Regions from separate parts of the Homo sapiens genome. Here region 1 is linked to region 2. The links come from fine-mapping of genetic effects on plasma protein levels. A gene starts in region 2. The other region holds a variant in brackets. All regions are shown on one strand. Distances are between the middles of the regions. Region 1 overlaps LOC105369632 (a long non-coding RNA gene). Region 2 holds the start of ENO2 (enolase 2).

Evidence for each region. A credible set is the group of variants that fine-mapping cannot tell apart. PIP is the chance, under the fine-mapping model, that this variant and not a neighbour inherited with it causes the effect. The UK Biobank Pharma Proteomics Project read protein levels with antibody pairs (Olink). The fine-mapping took linkage between variants from a reference panel, not from the people measured, so its PIPs are less certain.
Region 1: its variant is the best candidate, but not a certain one, in a credible set for the plasma level of the ENO2 protein (UK Biobank, PIP 0.82).

The regions. Positions count from the first base shown.
Region 1 is chr12:6,873,444-6,881,632 of GRCh38, forward strand. LOC105369632 (a long non-coding RNA gene) reads right to left here. Exons shown (of 4, transcript NR_135083.1): 3 at 4,056-4,157; 4 at 2,321-2,471. Among named protein-coding and RNA genes, the nearest start is that of SPSB2, 4.2 kb to the left of the region's middle. RefSeq lists a silencer at 1-269. The variant A/T (reference allele first, on the strand shown) is at 2,297.
Region 2 is chr12:6,912,502-6,922,199 of GRCh38, forward strand. It overlaps ENO2 (enolase 2), which reads left to right and starts at 2,079. Exons shown (of 12, transcript NM_001975.3): 1 at 2,079-2,158; 2 at 3,320-3,416; 3 at 3,916-4,011; 4 at 4,170-4,228; 5 at 4,537-4,606; 6 at 5,080-5,213; 7 at 5,439-5,661; 8 at 7,065-7,262; 9 at 9,080-9,281; 10 at 9,555-9,663. The coding sequence starts at 3,332. LRRC23 (leucine rich repeat containing 23) reads left to right here. Exons shown (of 8, transcript NM_001135217.2): 7 at 229-526; 8 at 1,390-1,728. The coding sequence ends at 502. RefSeq lists enhancers at 1,482-1,551, 1,582-1,751, 2,430-3,071, 3,072-3,711 and silencers at 1,862-2,351, 1,883-2,073.

The DNA of each region.
Region 1 (8,189 bases), 40 kb before region 2:
CGAGGCCACGCCCCTGTGGGGCCCCGCCCCCTCCTGGGCAGTTACCGCTCTATACCGGCAGCAGCCGCGGAGAGCATGCCCCGCCCCCGTGGAGCCCACCCCGGGCGGTTAACCTCGGGTCTCAGTCCCGGGCTGTGACCCTCCCCGAGGCCCCGCCCCCACGGCGAAGGCCCGGGGCAGTTAACCCTTCTCTTGCTGCGGCAGAGTCCGCACCCGGGCAGGCCCATCTCAGAATTAACGCTTTGATGGCATCACCGCGTCGGGAATCCCTGGGGATGGTGTTCTCCACCGTCAAGACCTTTGAGCCGCCTGAGCGACTAACTCCTGCGCCCCTGAGGGTAAGGAGCATGGGGTCAAGGAGGGGCTTCATTGTGCCGAATCCCATTTCTACTTCCCTGTGATTCTGGGTCACTGTTTCTGGGCTGGTCCCTTTCTGCCCCGGGTTGTGAGTCAGCCTGTGCCACCTCTGAGGCTGTGAAATCTGCTTCAGGCTCTAGGCTGTACGCATCATAGTTCTCCCTGCTGGTCCAGTCTTCATACTGGATGCCAATCCATTACTGAGCCGTTGATCTCATTTGGTAGAGTGTCCTGATTAAGACTTCGAGTTTGAGTGAAGCTATGCCACTAGTTAACTGCGCGATCTTGGGGAAGTTGCCCGATTTCTCTTTTTTTTTTTTTTGAGACAGGGTCTTGCTGTCACCAAGGCTAGAGTGCAGTGGCGCCATCACAGCCCACTGCAGCCTTGACCTCCTGGGCTCAAGTGATCCTCCTACCTCAGCCTCCCAAGTAGCTGGGACTACAGGCATGTGCTACCACACCCAGCTAATTTTTAAAAAAATATTTTTATTTTTATTTTTATTTTTTTCGAGACAGAGTCTTGCTCTTGTTGCCCAGGCTGGAGTGCAGCGGCACGATCTCGGCTCTCTGTAACCTCCATCTCCCAGGTTCAGGGGATTCTCCTGCCTCAGCCTCCTGAGTAGCTGGGATTACAGGCACCTGCCACCACGCCTAGCTATTTTTTGTATTTTTAGTAGACACAGGGTTTTGCCATGTTGGCCAGGCTGGTCTAGAACTCCTGACCTTGTGATCTGCCTGCCTTAGCCTCCCAAAGTGCTGAGATTACAGGTGTGAGCCACCACGTCCGGCCAAAAAAAAATTTTTTTTAGAGACAGGGTCTCCCAAAGTGCTGGGATTTCAGGCATGAGCCACTACGCCCAGCCCCAGATTTCTGTAGTTTTCTGTTATGTAAAATAGGAGCAATGATGGTAGTTACCTCACAGGGTTGTTGTGCAGTTGAAATAATCCAGGTAAAGCATGTAGCACAGAGCTGGGTACATAGTAGTCACTCACCAAGCATAGCTGTCAATGTGCTTAATGAGTGCCGACACTATAAGGAGGCAATATAATATAATGGCAAACATGCCAGCTGTGGGACCAGACTCCCCGGGCATGAATACCTGAAGGCCAGTGTGTGTATGACCTTGGGCAAATTACTGAACCTCCCTGTGCCTGTTTCTTCCTCTGTAAGACAGAGATCACATTAGTATCTATTGCATGGGGTTGGTAGTGAGAATCCAATGAGGTTATAGATGTAACACATTTGGAAGAGTTTCTGGTTCGCATTTAATGATTTGTGCTAAGCACTGGAGATTAAGCAGTGAATCCTTAAGGAGGTTACAAAGACTTTTATAAAATAATGTATCATGTAGTAATAGTAAATAAAATTATGGAGATATAAAGAAAGTACTATAGGAGTAAAAAGAATAGGACTCCTATCCGGGGTTCAAGCAGTTAGGAAAGGAGCATCTCCAAAAGAGGTTCACACCTGGGCTGAATCTTTTCATGTCCTAGAAGAGGTTCACACCTTCACACTGGGCTGAATCTTTCTCTTTTTTTTTTTGAGACGGAGTCTAAGCTCTGATGCCTAGGCTGGAGTGCAGTGGCGTGATCTCAGCTCACCTCTGCCTCCTGGGGTCAAGTGATTCTCCTGCCTCAGCCTCCCAAGTAGCTGGGACTACAAGCGTGCACCACCATGCCTGGCTAATTTTTGTATTTTTAGTAGAGACAGGGTTTCACTATGTTGCCCAGGCTGGCCTCGAACTCCTGACCTCGTGATCTGCCCGCCTCGGCCTCCCAAAGTGCTGGGGTTACCGGCATGAGCCACCGCGCCCAGCCTGGGCTGAATCTAAAAGGATGACCAGGAATTGGCCTGAGACGAGCCACTTCTCTGCAGTATGGAGGTTGGGTTACGGTTGCTGCATGTAGAAGATATTCCAGACAGAAGAGTCCGCATGAA[A/T]AAAAGCAAGAAGCAGCAGGTGGGTTTGGGGAAGTACGATATCTTCAAGGTTGCTACAGCCAGAAAGGAAGCATGAGAAGGGCCAGATAAGTAGACAGCAAGTCACAGAGGCCTTCTAGGCTGAGTTAAGGAATGCAAATGTTTTCCCATAGGACAGGCCAGTGATGGGGAGCCACTGTAGGATAGAAGAAGAGAGGAACATGGTCAGATAGGCATTTGATTTATTTATATATTTTGAGCCAGGGTCTCACTTTGTCACCCAGGCTGGAGTGGAGTAGCGTGATCACGACTCATGGCAGCCACAACCTCCTGAGCTCCGCTGATCCTCCTACCTCAGCCTCCTGAGTAGCTGGGACTACAGGTGCATACCGCCATGCCGAGCTAATTTATTTTTATTTTTTTAATTTACAAATTATTATTTCTTAATTTTTAAAATAGAGACAGAGTCTCAGTCTGTTGCCCAGGCTGGTCTCGAACTCCTGAGTCAAGCGATCCTCCTGCCTCAGCATCCCAAAGTACTGGGATTACAGGCGTGAGCCACTGTGCCTGGCCAGATCTGCATTTTAGAAAAACCACCCTGGCAGCAACATAGAGGAGCTTCAAGGGAAATAGAACTGGAAGTTGGCTGGGCGCGATGGCTCACACCTGTAATCCCAGCACTTTGGAAGGCTGAGATGGGCGAATCACCTGAGGTTTGGAGTTCGAGACCAGCCTGGCCAACATGGAGAAACCCTGTCTCTACTAAAAATACAAAATTAGCCGGGCATGGTGGAGCATGCCTGTAATCCCAGCTACTCAGGAGGTTGAGGCAGGAGAATTGCTTGAACCTGGGAGGTGGAGGTTGCGGTGAGCCGAGATCACGCCATTGCACTCCAGCCTGGGCAACAAGAGTGAAACTCTGTCTCAAAAAAAAAAAAAAAAAAGGACTGGAAGCAAAGACACCATTTCCAGCAGCCCAGGTGACAAGTGTCAACAGCCTGAAATAGGACAGTAGAAATAAGGATGAAAATAATTCAAGAAACACTGATGAAACGGCAAGATTTGGTGACTGATTAGATATGGAGTTGAGGCTGGGCACAGTGGCTCACGCCTGTAATCCCAGCACTTTGGGAGGCCGAGGCAGGCGGATCACCTGAGGTTGGGAGTTTGAGACCAGCCTGGCCAACATGGTGAAACCCTGTCTCTACTAAAAATACAAAAATTAGCTGTGTGTGGTGGTGGGCACCTGTAATCCCAGCTACTTCGGAGGGTGAAGCAGGAGAATTGCTTGAACCAGGGAGGTGGAGGCTGCAGTGAGCCGAGATGGCGCTACCGCACTCCAGCCTGGGCGACAGAGCAAGACTCCATCTCAAAAAAAAAAAAAAAAAAAAAAGAGAAAGGGAAGTTTCTAGCCTGGAAAAATTGATTGGAAGGTGGTGCCACCAATCAAGATGGAGATGACAGAAAGAGGAGTAATTGAGGGCAGGGGCAGGAGGGTGGGAGAGGGAGATGGTGAGTTCAGTTTAGGATATGTTTTTGAGGTGTCTGAGCCACAAGCAAATGGAACCATCCAGAACACACAAGAAAATGGCAGGTCTGGAGGCAGAATGAGAGGCCTGGGCTGGAGACAGGGATTTGGGAGGTGTGTCAGTCTTTAGTCAGGAGTTGAACTATGAGAATGAGTGAGTGAAATATGGGCGATGGGGACAAAGAGAGTGTGGAGCAACAGAAGGGTCAAGGAGAATAGAACAAGGTAGAAAATTCAGTTTTGATTACTTACAAGATTGTTTTGGTCAGAGGTCACTGGCAACCTTGGTGAGAGACAGCACATGTGGGGACTGGTAGGTGGAACTCCAGGCTGAAGGGGCTGGACTGTCACAAGCTTTACATTTTGAAGGAATAGAAAATGAGGAGAAGTAAATTACAATTATGTCACATAGTTAAAGTTACCCTTGGAAATCCCTTAGTAGGCTGGGTGCAGTGGCTCATTCCTGTAATCCCACCACTTTGAGAGGCTGAAGCAGGAGCTTGAGCCCAGGAGTTTGAGACCAGCCTGGAAGACTAGTGAGACCCCATCTCTACCAAATAATAATAATAAAATAGGCCGGACGCGGTGGCTGACGCCTGTAATCCCAGCACTTTGGGAGGCCGAGGCGTGTGGATCACCTGAGGTCAGGAGTTCAAGACCAGCCTGGCCAACATGGTGAAATCCCGTCTCTACTAAATATACAAAAAAAAAAAAATTAGCCAGGCGTGGTGGTGTGCACCTGTAATCCCTCAGCAGGAGAATTGTTTGAACCCAGGAGGCGGAGGTTGCAGTGAGTCAGGATGGCGCCACTGCACTCCAACATGGGCGACAGAGTGATACTCCATCTCAGAAAACAAAACAAAAAAATAAAATAGGCTGGGCATGGTGGCTCATGCCTGTAATCTCAGCACTTTGGGAGGCCGAGGCAGGTGGATCACTTGAGGTCAGGAGTTCGAGACCAGCCTGGCCAACATGGTGAAACCCCGTCTCTACTAAAAATACAAAAATTAGCTGGGCGTGGTGGCATGTGCCTATAATCCCAGCTACGCAGGAGGCTGAGGAAGGAGAATCGTGCCTGTAATCCCAGCTACTCAGGAGGCTGAGGCAGAAGAACCCGCAAGGCAGAGGTTGCAGTGAGCCAAGATCCTGCCACTGCACTCCAGCCTGGCGACAGAGCAAGACTCCGTCTCAAAAAATAAAGTAAAATAAAATAAAAATAATTGAGGACCACAAGAACTAGGAAAAAAAGAAAAAAGAAAAAAGAAAGGCCGAGGCAGGCAGATCACCTGAGGTCGGGAGTTTGAGGCCAGCCTGACCAACATGGAGAAACCTCGTCTCTACTAAAAATACAAAAATCAGCTAGGCATGGTGGCACATGCCTGTAATCCCAGCTACTCGGGAGGCTGAGGCAGGAGAATCGCTTGAACCTGGGAGGCAGAGGTTGTGGTGAGCTGAGATTGAGCCATTGCACTCCAGCCTGGACAACAAGAGCGAAACTCCATCTCAAAAAAAAAAAAAAAAAGAAAAAGAAAATCCCTCAGTTACTGCATCTGTTAGGTGAGCATATATTCGTTTGTGTAAAAATCACTATGTGGCTGTATATATATATATATATATATATATATATATATATATATATATATATATATATATAAAATGATGTACAAAATATTTTATAATGTTTTAAAGAGGAAGAAGAAAGCAGCACACTAAGAAGTAACTCAGGAATGGAAAACCAAACATCATATGTTCTCATAAGTGGGAGCTAAGCCATGAGAATGCAGAGGCATAAGAATGACACAATGGACCTTGGGTACTCAGGGGGAAAGGGTGGGAAGAGGTGGAGGGATAAAAGACTATAAATAGCGTTCAGTGTATACTGCTTGGGTGATGGGTGCACCAAAATCTCACAAATCACCACGAAAGAACTTACTCATATAACCAAACACCACCTGTTCCCCAATAACCTATGAAAATAAAATAATAATAAAAAGAAGAAGAAAGCATACTAAAATAAAGATATGAACCTGAAACTTGTCATCCACCCAACCTGGATATGCTTGCCAGTATGTGACATCAATAATAACATCATGACTGTAAGACCAGGCACAGTGGCTCACACCTGTAATCCCAGCACTTTGGGAGGCCAAGGTGGGCCGATTTGAGATCAGAAGTTGAAGACCAGCCTGGGCAGCATGATGAAACCCCGCCTCTACAAAAAATACAAAAAATTAGCCAGGCTTTGGTGGCTTGCGCCTGCCATCCCAGCTACTCAAGAGGCTGAGGCAAGAGAATCCCTTGAGTCTAGAATTGGAGGTTGCGGTGAGCCAAGATCAGGCCACTGCACTCCAGCCTGGGTGACAGAGCGAGACCCCGTCTCAAAAAATAAATAACATCATGACTGTGGGTGGCAGCCTATGATGAATAGTAGTGAAGGACCCATGTGATAACCAAGGCCTGGGGACAGAGAACAGTGCCTGCCCCATGGCTAGCTCTAGCTCAGCTTGAGAATTTAATCACGCCTGTGCTGCTGATGCTGCTGCTGCTGCTGCTACTGGTTGTTTAAAACATGGTTGTTGGCCGGGCACAGTGGCTCACGCCTGTAATCCCACCACTTTGGGAGGCTGAGGCAGGCAGATCATCTGAGATAAGGAGTTCGAGACCAGCCTGGCCTACATGGTGAAACCCCGTCTCTACTAAAAAATACATAAAAATTAGCCAGGCCTACTGGCACGTGCCTGTAGTCCCAGCTACTCAGGAAGCCGAGGCAGAAGAACCACTTGAACCCAGGAGGCGGAGGTTGCAGTGAGCCGAGATTGCGCCACTGCACTCCAGTCTGGGCGACAGAGGGAGACTTTGTCTCAAAAAAAAAAAAAAAAGGTTGTTTTAAACAATTCATCAGTTGATGCCACTGAATCTGGAGCTGGTCAAACATTTGTTGCTAAAAGGTAAAAAATTTCGTAATGCTACAAGTAATTTAAATTTTTTACTTAAAAATTAAAAAAAAAAAAAAATTGGCCGGGCATGGTGGCTCACACCTGTAATCCCAGCACTTTGGGAGGCCGAGGCGGGTGGATCACAAGGTCAAGAGATCGAGACCATCCTGGCTTTAGTAGAGACAGTGAAACCCCGTCTCTACTAAAAATACAAAAAAAATTAGCCAGGCGTGGTGGTGGGCGCCTGTAGTCCCAGCTACTCGGGAGGCTGAGGCAAGAGAATGGCGTGAACCCTGGAGGCAGAGCTTGCAGTGAGCCAAGATCACGCCACTGCACTCCAGCCTGGGTGACAGAGCGACATTCCATCTCAAAAAAAAAAAAAAAATTATAGATGAGGTCTTGCTATTTTGCCCAGGCTGGACTCAAATTCCTGGGTTCAAGTAATCCCCCCAACCTCAGCCTCCCAAGTAGCTGAGACTACAGGCATGTGCCACAATGCCTTTTTACTTATTTTATTATTTTGTTGAGACAGGGTCTCAGTGTACTCCAGGCTGGAGTGCAGTGGCACGACCATGACTCACTGCAGCCTCACCCCAGCCTCCTGAGTAGCTAGGACTACAGGCACATGCCACCAGGCCTGGCTAATATTTAACTTTTCGTAGAGACAGGGACTCTCTCTATGTTGCCCAGGTTGATCTCAAACTCCTGTACTCAAGCAATTCTCCTGCCTCGTCCTCCCAAAGTGCTGGGATTACAGGCATGAGCCACCATGCCTGGCTGTTTTTAAATTTTTATATATATATATTTTGAGACAAGGTCTGGCTCTGTTGCCCAGGCTGGAGTGCAGTGCACGATCTCGGCTCACTGCAACCTCTGCCTTCTGGGTTCAAGCAACTTTCCCGCCTCAGCCTCTGGAGTAGCTGGGACAACAGGCGCCCCGCCAGCATGCCTGGATAATTTTTTTGTATGCTTTTATAAAGACAGGGTTTCACCATGTTGCCCAGGTTGGTCTCGAACTCCTGGGCTCAAGCAATCCACCCATCTTGGTCTCTCAAAATATTGTGATTACAGGGGTGAGCCACTGCGATCGGTCCTTTTAAAAAAAAAGTCCCCTCCCACCACTGCCGTTTTTACTTTTTGATTGAGATGTAGCATATATAAAGCACACTAATCTTAAATTGCCCAGTGAACTTTTACATACATATACACTTGGGTGACAACCACCAAAAAGATCAAGATAAAGAATCCAGCTGGCTGGGCACGGTGGCTCACACCTATAATCCCAGTACTTTGGGAGGCTAAGGCAGGGGATCACTTGAGCTCAAGAGTTCTGAGATGAGCCTGGGCAACATAGGGAGACCTCGTCTCTACTAAAAATTCAAAAAAGTTAGCTGGGTGTGGTGGTGCACGCCTCTAGTCCCAGTTACTCTGGTGGGCTGAGGTCGGAGGA
Region 2 (9,698 bases):
TATTACAGAGTAGAATATGGCACTTAGGGATTCCTTGAAGGGCAGAAGCAGGACCAGAGCGGGGTCACACAGCACCTCTGCAGTAAATCTGGCAAGGCTTGGCAGGCCAGTCCTCACAGTGTTTCTAGGGACACTGGAACCCCGAGAGTCCCCCAGAGGCCCCATTCCTAGCAACTGGCAACCAAAGCCCATTATTCCTGCATGAACCCCTCCTGACCACACTGGCAGGGGCAACATGGTGGCCAACCTGGGGGAGCTGGCCAAGCTTCGAGACCTGCCCAAGCTGCGAGCGTTGGTGCTGCTTGATAACCCATGCACGGACGAAACCAGCTACCGCCAGGAGGCCCTGGTGCAGATGCCATACCTTGAACGCCTGGACAAGGAATTCTATGAGGAGGAGGAACGGGCTGAGGCTGATGTGATTCGACAGAGGCTGAAGGAAGAAAAGGAGCAGGAGCCTGAGCCCCAGCGTGACCTGGAACCCGAACAGTCATTGATCTAGCAGCAGTTCTAGCCTCTAAAGATAGTAAGGAAGCCTGCAGGGAGGCAGTGGGAGGAGGCCAAGGGCTGGGCAGGTAGGGGAAGAGGCAAGAGGGGAAGCTGCTGCAGAAGGAGGTGGGAGAGGAAAGCATCAGACAAGCAGGACCCTTAAAGAGAGGAGGGTTAGGAGTCAGGGAGAGGAAAAGGGACCCAAGGGGCCTGGGACCAGCTGAGAAAGACTTAGGAGGCCAGAAGAGTAAGTGAAAAGAATTGGGGTGGCAGGCAGAGGAGTTGGTGGGGGGTGGGGCAGCCATACCTGACACAGAGTGAAGTCGGCTAGGAAAGGACAGGTGTGGGTGCATGGTAGGGGCTGCAGGGGAAAGTTGGTGGTGTATGCAGCTGGACCTAGGAGAGAAGCAGGAGAGGAAGATCCAGCACAAAAAATCTGAAGCTAAAAACAGGACACAGAGATGGGGGAAGAAAAGAGGGCAGAGTGAGGCAAAAAGAGACTGAAGAGATGAGGGTGGCCGCCAGGCACTTTAGATAGGGGAGAGGCTTTATTTACCTCTGTTTGTTTTTTTTTTTTTTTTTTTTTTTTTTTTGCGAGGTAGTCTTGCTTAGTCTCCAGGCTGGAGTGCAGTGGCACAATCTCAGCTCACTGCAACTTCCACCTCCTGGGTTCAAGCAATTCTCCTGCCTCAGCCTCCCGAGTAGCTGGGACTACAGGCGCATGCAACCGCGCCTGGCTAATTTTTGTATTTTTAGTAGAAACGGGGTTTCACCACGTTAGCCAGGATGGTCTGGATCTCCTGACCTCGTGATCTGCCCGCCTCCGCCTTCCAAAGTGCTGGGATTACAGGGGTGAGCCACAGCGCCTGGTCCCTATTTACTTCTGTCTTCTACCTCCAGGAGATCAAAGACGCTGGCCTTCAGACCTGATCAGACTCCCAGGGGCAGCCACCACATGTATGACAGAGAACAGAGGATGCCTGTTTTTGCCCCAAAGCTGGAAATTCATCACAACCTGAGGCCCAGGATCTGCTCTGTGCCGGTCCTCTGGGCAGTGTGGGGTGCAGAATGGGGTGCCTAGGCCTGAGCGTTGCCTGGAGCCTAGGCCGGGGGCCGCCCTCGGGCAGGCGTGGGTGAGAGCCAAGACCGCGTGGGCCGCGGGGTGCTGGTAGGAGTGGTTGGAGAGACTTGCGAAGGCGGCTGGGGTGTTCGGATTTCCAATAAAGAAACAGAGTGATGCTCCTGTGTCTGACCGGGTTTGTGAGACATTGAGGCTGTCTTGGGCTTCACTGGCAGTGTGGGCCTTCGTACCCGGGCTACAGGGGTGCGGCTCTGCCTGTTACTGTCGAGTGGGTCGGGCCGTGGGTATGAGCGCTTGTGTGCGCTGGGGCCAGGTCGTGGGTGCCCCCACCCTTCCCCCATCCTCCTCCCTTCCCCACTCCACCCTCGTCGGTCCCCCACCCGCGCTCGTACGTGCGCCTCCGCCGGCAGCTCCTGACTCATCGGGGGCTCCGGGTCACATGCGCCCGCGCGGCCCTATAGGCGCCTCCTCCGCCCGCCGCCCGGGAGCCGCAGCCGCCGCCGCCACTGCCACTCCCGCTCTCTCAGCGCCGCCGTCGCCACCGCCACCGCCACCGCCACTACCACCGTCTGAGTCTGCAGTCCCGAGGTGAAGCCCCCGCCAGGCCCAGAGCCCCTGTGGCCCCCTCCCTTCGCCGCGGCGCCCCTGCCTCCTTTACCCGGTGCCGCTGCGCACCTCTCCGCATCTCTGGCCCGGTGCAGCTGCGCACCTGCTCCGCCGCCCGCGCCCAGGGCGCCTTCCCTCCCTGGCCTTCCCCGCCCGCTGCCTTCGCTTTCTGGCCCTCTGCGCGCCTATCTCTAACTGCGCCTCTCCACCCTTGCCTGCCTCTCTCCCGGTGCTCGCCCTCATCTACGGTTCTATTTGTTTCTAAGTTGGGAGCCTCTCCGGGCGGTGCATTTTTATCCTAGAGCGTCCCTTTTGGTTTGCATTTGGGGAAATGTCTTCTCTCACCGTTCCTCACCTCCCCCAGACTTCCCTTGGACTCCCCTCTCTCCTGCTCTTCCCCACGGCGCCCCTCTCCGTTCGCGCTTCCTCCCCTCTGCTGCACGGGGGAGAGATGGAAGAAGTGGGGATCTGTCGAGGCGCAGAGGGGAGGACAGGCCCAGCTCGCCTCCACTCCCCACCGGCTCTTATCCTCTTCACTTCCCGCTGCAACCCCCAGGGACTGCAGGGCCTTTCTCAGGACCCTCTTCCCCGACACCTGTATTGCATGCGCCTTTCGCGGGAAGAGGAGGGATACACGTTTGGGAGAGAGTGGGACCTTGGGGAAGGGGCAGTGTTCAGGCAGCTGGGGTGTTAAGTTGGGGAGGTATGGGGGCTCTGGAAGAGAGGCCCAGGCAGCCCATCCTCTTCTTGGCTCCCAGGAGAAATGCAAGCCTGGCAGCCATTCCGCTCTGAGGAGATCTGGGGGAACCCCACCGGCTGGCCAAGCTGCAAAGAGGCGCGGGAACCACTGTCGTGCCCCTCCCCTCCTCACTGCAGTGTTCTCCCATCTCATCATTTGATCTTACCCCGCCCCCCACTGCAGTGACCTCCCCTTCCTCACTGCATTGACCTTCTCCTCTTCCCAGGGGGGAGGGGGAATCCCTTCTACAGCCCTAGACTGCAGCCAGCGCCTCCCTACCCACCCCCCACCCACTGCAGTAACCTCTTTCCCATCCCTCCCAGCCTCCCGCCCCGCCCATTGATCTCAGGCTCCACCCCTCTAAGCCTCTTATCTTTCTCCTTCCTTCCCTTCCACCCGAGGAGATCCCAGCCATCATGTCCATAGAGAAGATCTGGGCCCGGGAGATCCTGGACTCCCGCGGGAACCCCACAGTGGAGGTGGATCTCTATACTGCCAAAGGTAATGGGTGTGGCATGGGCCTTCCTACAGCCCTAGCTTTTCCACGGCCAGGCTGGGTTCGGCCAGGGGTTCGGAGGCCTTTTTTGATACCCAGGGGTATGGGGTGCTGGGCCAGGCTCACAAGCCTGGGTTGTGGCGGTTGGATCCTCCTTGTCCGGGGAGCCAGGGTAGGTGGGTCTGTGTTCGAGTTTAGCGTGTGAGGCATGTCCTGCCTCCGTGTGTCTGCCTGTGCACTTGCATGTGTGCAGACGTGTGCTGCAAGCAATTTTCTTTCTGCGGGCTCCCACTTGTGCATGTGGGGCCTCAGATGGGTGGATGAGGAGGCCACTTCTTGTGCATCTGCCTCAGTGTGTGTGTGGGGTGGGGGTGGGGGGATGTTAGGGAGCAGTGTGGGGAGAGAGCTAGATGTGGTAGGCAGGCAGTTTAGAGCCAGAAGGCTGAAGGACTCCCTGGCCCCTGTGTCCTCTTCACTCCCTCTCATTCCATGTTCCTCCTTTAGGTCTTTTCCGGGCTGCAGTGCCCAGTGGAGCCTCTACGGGCATCTATGAGGCCCTGGAGCTGAGGGATGGAGACAAACAGCGTTACTTAGGCAAAGGTGAGGTCCCTTCTCTTTTCCAGACTCTCCCCCACCTCAGCCTTATGCCCCTACCTCACACCAGTCCCCAGTCCTCCTCTAGCATGGCTTCCCCTCCTCCCATTGATCCCTTCCGGCCCCTCCTGGCCCGACCCAGTCCAGCCTCTTCCTTTCCCCAGGTGTCCTGAAGGCAGTGGACCACATCAACTCCACCATCGCGCCAGCCCTCATCAGCTCAGTGAGGCCTGCTCTTTGCTGGGGATAGCAGGGCCAGAGTTCTGGAAGGAATCCCGGAGCAGGGCAGGAGGAAGGGAAGAAAGAAGGCCCACTCTTAGGAATCATGGTTACAAGGGGGAAGGGTGGGGAACAGCTTCCTTAATGCACCCTGCTCCCATGGGAGTTCAGGTCCCCTAATCCAGGTAGGCCCCTGTCACAGGGACCTGGTTGGACCCTGGCCAAATGTGAGCTTGGGTGTGAATGAGGGGACCCTCTGCCTTAGGGCTCAGCCTCCAGCCTGGCCCTGGGTGATGGAGGCTCTGCCCTCAGGGTCTCTCTGTGGTGGAGCAAGAGAAACTGGACAACCTGATGCTGGAGTTGGATGGGACTGAGAACAAATGTGAGCCGGGGCCGGGAGAAAGTGGGGAAGCGTCAGGGTGGGGAGGCGTGGAGCAGATAGAGAGCTGAAGGGCCAGTGCTGTAGTGGCTTCCTCAGGAATGACTGTCAGGGGCATTCTCCTCTCAAAGCCAGAGCAAGGGGAGATGAGTTTAGCTGCAGAGGGAAGGACCGACAGTAGGCAGAAGGAAGACCTTCTTTGCAGCATACAGAGGAGGGGGATGGCCTGAGAGAGTCTGTGGTCTCAGGGATATTTAGAAAGAGGTGTGGCTCTCTGCCGTTTCCAATCTCCTCCTCCCCACCCATTCCTCTCCCTGCTGTTTTCAAGAGAGCATGGATGAGGTGTTGCTGGGGCAGGGGTGGGGAGGGAGGAGGGGGTCTCCTTTACTGGCTCCTTTTGGAGACTACAGATGGAGGCAGGAGCTAGAAAGGAGAAGGGGACATTGTGCTCAGCACCTTCCTCTATAATCTCCTAGCCAAGTTTGGGGCCAATGCCATCCTGGGTGTGTCTCTGGCCGTGTGTAAGGCAGGGGCAGCTGAGCGGGAACTGCCCCTGTATCGCCACATTGCTCAGCTGGCCGGGAACTCAGACCTCATCCTGCCTGTGCCGGTGAGCAATAAGCCAGCCTGCGGCTCTCCCAGGGGCGGGTGGGGGAGGGAGCATGCAACTCATGAGGAATGATGGGAGGAAAGTGAATTGAGGGAGGTAAAGAGGAAGGATGGGGACGTGAGACTTAGTCCGGAAAGCTGGGGGAAGTTTGGGATCTTGGGTTAACACTCCTGGGGCGGGCAGGGAGGGGCTCTTTGACCCTTCTGTCTTTCTGTGGCTCCCCAGGCCTTCAACGTGATCAATGGTGGCTCTCATGCTGGCAACAAGCTGGCCATGCAGGAGTTCATGATCCTCCCAGTGGGAGCTGAGAGCTTTCGGGATGCCATGCGACTAGGTGCAGAGGTCTACCATACACTCAAGGGAGTCATCAAGGACAAATACGGCAAGGATGCCACCAATGTGGGGGATGAAGGTGGCTTTGCCCCCAATATCCTGGAGAACAGTGAAGGTGAGGCCAGGAGCCCCACTCCCAGCTCTAAGTCTTACCCTATTGTGGGACATCAGAAAGGGTGACACAGTTCACCAAGTCCTGAGTAGGCGTGGAGGGTCCTAGGACTCTGCAAACTCCAAAAGGTACCAGTTCTTAGAGTGGATTGCAGAGAGCCTGCCAAATTCACATGCAGACCTAGGGGGACAGTATTTTTTTTTTTTTTTGAGACGGAGTCTTGCTCTGTCACCCAGGCTGGAGTGCAGTGGCTCGATCTCAGCTCACTGCAAGCTCCGCCTCCCGGGTTCACGCCATTCTCCTGCCTCAGCCTCCCGAGTAGCTGGGACTACAGGCGCCCGCCACCACGCCCGGCTAATTTTTTGTATTTTTTAGTAGAGACAGGGTTTCACTGTGGTCTCGAACTCCTGACCTTGTGATCGGCCCGCCTCGGCCTCCCAAAGTGCTGGGATTACAAGCGTGAGCCACCACGCCTGGCCAGGGGACAGTCTTTTACCTGCCTAGCCAGATGTGTTAGCATCTGTTAAGTTGCCACTGGAAGGCCGGGCGCGGTGGCTCACACCTGTAATCCCAGCACTTTGGGAGGCTGAGGCGGGTGGATCACCTGAGGTCAGGAGTTTGAGACCAGCCTGGCCAACAAGGTGAAACCCCGTCTCTACTAAAAATACAAAAATTAGCCGGGCATGGTGGCGTGTGCCTGTAATCACAGATACTAGCGGGGCTGAGGCAGGAGGATCGCTTGTACCCGGGAGGCGGAGGTTGTGGTGAGCCGAGATCATGCCACTGCACTCCAGCCTGGGCAACAGAGCGAGACTCCGTCTCAAAAAAAAAAAAAAAAAAAAAAGTTGTCACTGGAGCCCTTGGGAATACTGGGAGATGGTCTGGATGACTGTTGGATTCATCCCATCCATTCGAAATCTGTCCTGTCCCCGTCCCAACCTCCTAGGCCTCTAGAATCCCTAATTTTTCTGTGCCTTGGGGGAAACTGTATAGGGAATGGAAAGAATATAGGTAGTGGTTAAGAGTTAAGGTTCTGGGGCCAAATAACCTGGATTTATTTGAACCTTGACTTGTGGAGTTACTGCTGGTGAACTTTCTTACTTCTCTCTGGAAATAATAACAGAATCTAGCTCATGGTAGTGTGAGGCTTAAATGAAATATATATAAAATGCTTAGATGACATGATACCAATGAAAGTATAGTAAGTATTATTAAGAGAATTCCATTCCTCTGTGTTCCTAGAAGATGGCCTCTCCTCCCAGACCTGGGGATAACCCCAACAGCATCCCCGCCACACTTCCCTCAGGAACAGCCCTCCACCTCTGCCCTGAATGTCTTTTCTTTCCCTCCTCCTCCTTGCCCATCCCTCCTGCTTGTACTATAATCTCACTGTATTCTGTCCCCAGCCTTGGAGCTGGTGAAGGAAGCCATCGACAAGGCTGGCTACACGGAAAAGATCGTTATTGGCATGGATGTTGCTGCCTCAGAGTTTTATCGTGATGGCAAATATGACTTGGACTTCAAGTCTCCCACTGATCCTTCCCGATACATCACTGGGGACCAGCTGGGGGCACTCTACCAGGACTTTGTCAGGGACTATCCTGGTGAGAGGAAGTGGTGTGAGGGGGAGGTCTGGGGGCAGGCAGGGACGTGTCCCAGCAACTCTGGACCTTATGGGGTGCTGACTCAGGCACCAGGTGGGGGTGTCCTAAGAAGAACCTGAGAACCAGGGAGAGGGTGCAGGAGCCACCTGCAAAGACTGGGCTTTGTATGTAGTGTAAAAATGCAGGTACCCGTGACCAATCTGTTCTGTCTCAGATCCTGATTAAAGTCATGGGTTCTGAAAACTACTGGGGTCATGGGGAAGGCTCTGGAAGGAACCAGGGATGATATGAGTGTGACTGGATCTAGCAGAGAACTAGAACATTTCAGTATCTTTGATTGATGAAATTGTGGATGCTGAATGGAGCTGGGACTGATGTGTGAGTAGAAAGAAGGCTGAGGGGGACTGAATTAGCTTCTGCAAGTCTGCCCAGGGCCTTTATCTCAGGATGGAGGCAGTTGGTCGCCATCTTCCTGACACAGAGCGAAAGAAAATCAACATAATTGCAGAATTAAGGATTTGGATTAGCAATGAGGAAGGGCTTGCTGGCAGTGAGAACAGGAAAATGCAAAGCTAGGTTGTGAACCCTTGTTACTGGAAGATTTTTTTTGGGGGGGGGGTGGGGTTGTTTTTTTTGTTTTGTTTTTTTTTTTTGAGACAGAGTTTGACTCTTCTTGCCCAGGCTGGAGTGCAATGGCGCCATCTCGGCTCACCACAACCTCCACCTCCCGGATTCAAGCGATTCTTCTGCCTCAGCCTCCCGAATAGCTGGGATTACAGGCATGTGCCACCATGCCTGGCTAATTTTGTATTTTTAGTAGAGACAGGGGTTTCTCCATGTTGGTCAGGCTGGTCTCCAACTCCTGACCTCAGGTAATCTATCCACCTTGGTCTCCCAAAGTGCTGGGATTACAGGCGTGAGCCACCACGCCTGGCTGGTTTGCTTTTAATTAACTTTTTTTTTTTTTTTTTTTTTTTGTAGAGACAGGGTTTAGCCATGTTGCTCATGGCTGGTCTCAAACTACTGGGCTCAAGTGATCTGCATGCCTCGGCCTCCCAAAGTGCTGGGATTACAGGCATGAGCCACTGTGCCCAGCCTATGGAAGTGGCGTGAGATCTCTGCTCACTGCACGATTCTCTTAGCCTCCCAAGTAGCTGGGATTACAGGCGTGCACCACCATGCCTGGCTAATTTTTGTATTTTTAGTAGAGATGGGGTTTTACTATGTTAGCCAGGGAACTCCTATCCTCAAGTGATCCGTTCACCTCAGTATCCCAAAGTGCTGGGATTACAGGCATGAGCCACTGTGCCTGGCCTCTCCATGTAAGGTTTTATGAAATAAGAATCAGGAGCCAGGCGTGGTGGCTCATGCCTGTAATCCCATTACTTTGGGAAGCCGAGGCAGGAGGACTGCTTGAATCCAGGAGTTCGAGACTGGCCTGGCAATACAGTGAGACCTCATCTCTACAAAAATTTTAAAAATTAGCTGAGTGTGGTGCCACACACCTAAAGTCCCTGCTACTCAGGAGGCTGAGGTGGCAGGATCACTTGATTGGGGAGGTGGAGGTTGCAGTGAGCTGAGATTGTGCCACTGCACTCCAGCCTGGATGACAGAATGAGGCTCTGTCAAAAAAAAAAAAAAAGTTAAGAATCAGTTAGGGCAGGCTTACACTGGGGGGATTTGTCTTAGCAAGGATGAGCAGGTGTAGTTAACCAAGGGCCTGTCCATTTCAGGGAATAAAGGGGCATGTTCCTGCCTGATGTAGAGACCCAGGGAAGATGAACACCTCCCCCCTCCCCACCATGCTCTCTCTGCAGTGGTCTCCATTGAGGACCCATTTGACCAGGATGATTGGGCTGCCTGGTCCAAGTTCACAGCCAATGTAGGGATCCAGATTGTGGGTGATGACCTGACAGTGACCAACCCAAAACGTATTGAGCGGGCAGTGGAAGAAAAGGCCTGCAACTGTCTGCTGCTCAAGGTCAACCAGATCGGCTCGGTCACTGAAGCCATCCAAGCGTGAGTGACTTCTGGCCCTCTCCTGTGTGGTCCTCGTTTCTATAAGACTCCTTTTGCAAGTGCTCCAGCCTAATTCTACCCAGGGGTGCCAAAGAGAGCGGGGAACCTGGAATCATCCTCACAGTTCTCTCACCTCTGCCCCTCCACCCCTGATTCTCTGCTCCCCTCCCAGATAGCTTTCCCCTAGATGTTTCCTGACATAGACCAAGGTTGGGGCTGGGAAGAGAGTGCCCAGTGTGAGAGCTGGAGAATCAGTGCTGTGTGTGGATACAGGTGCAAGCTGGCCCAGGAGAATGGCTGGGGGGTCATGGTGAGTCATCGCTCAGGAGAGACTGAGGACACATTCATTGCTGACCTGGTGGTGGGGCTGTGCACAGGCCAGGTGAGTGAGGCAGCCTGGTGAGTGAAGAGAACTCT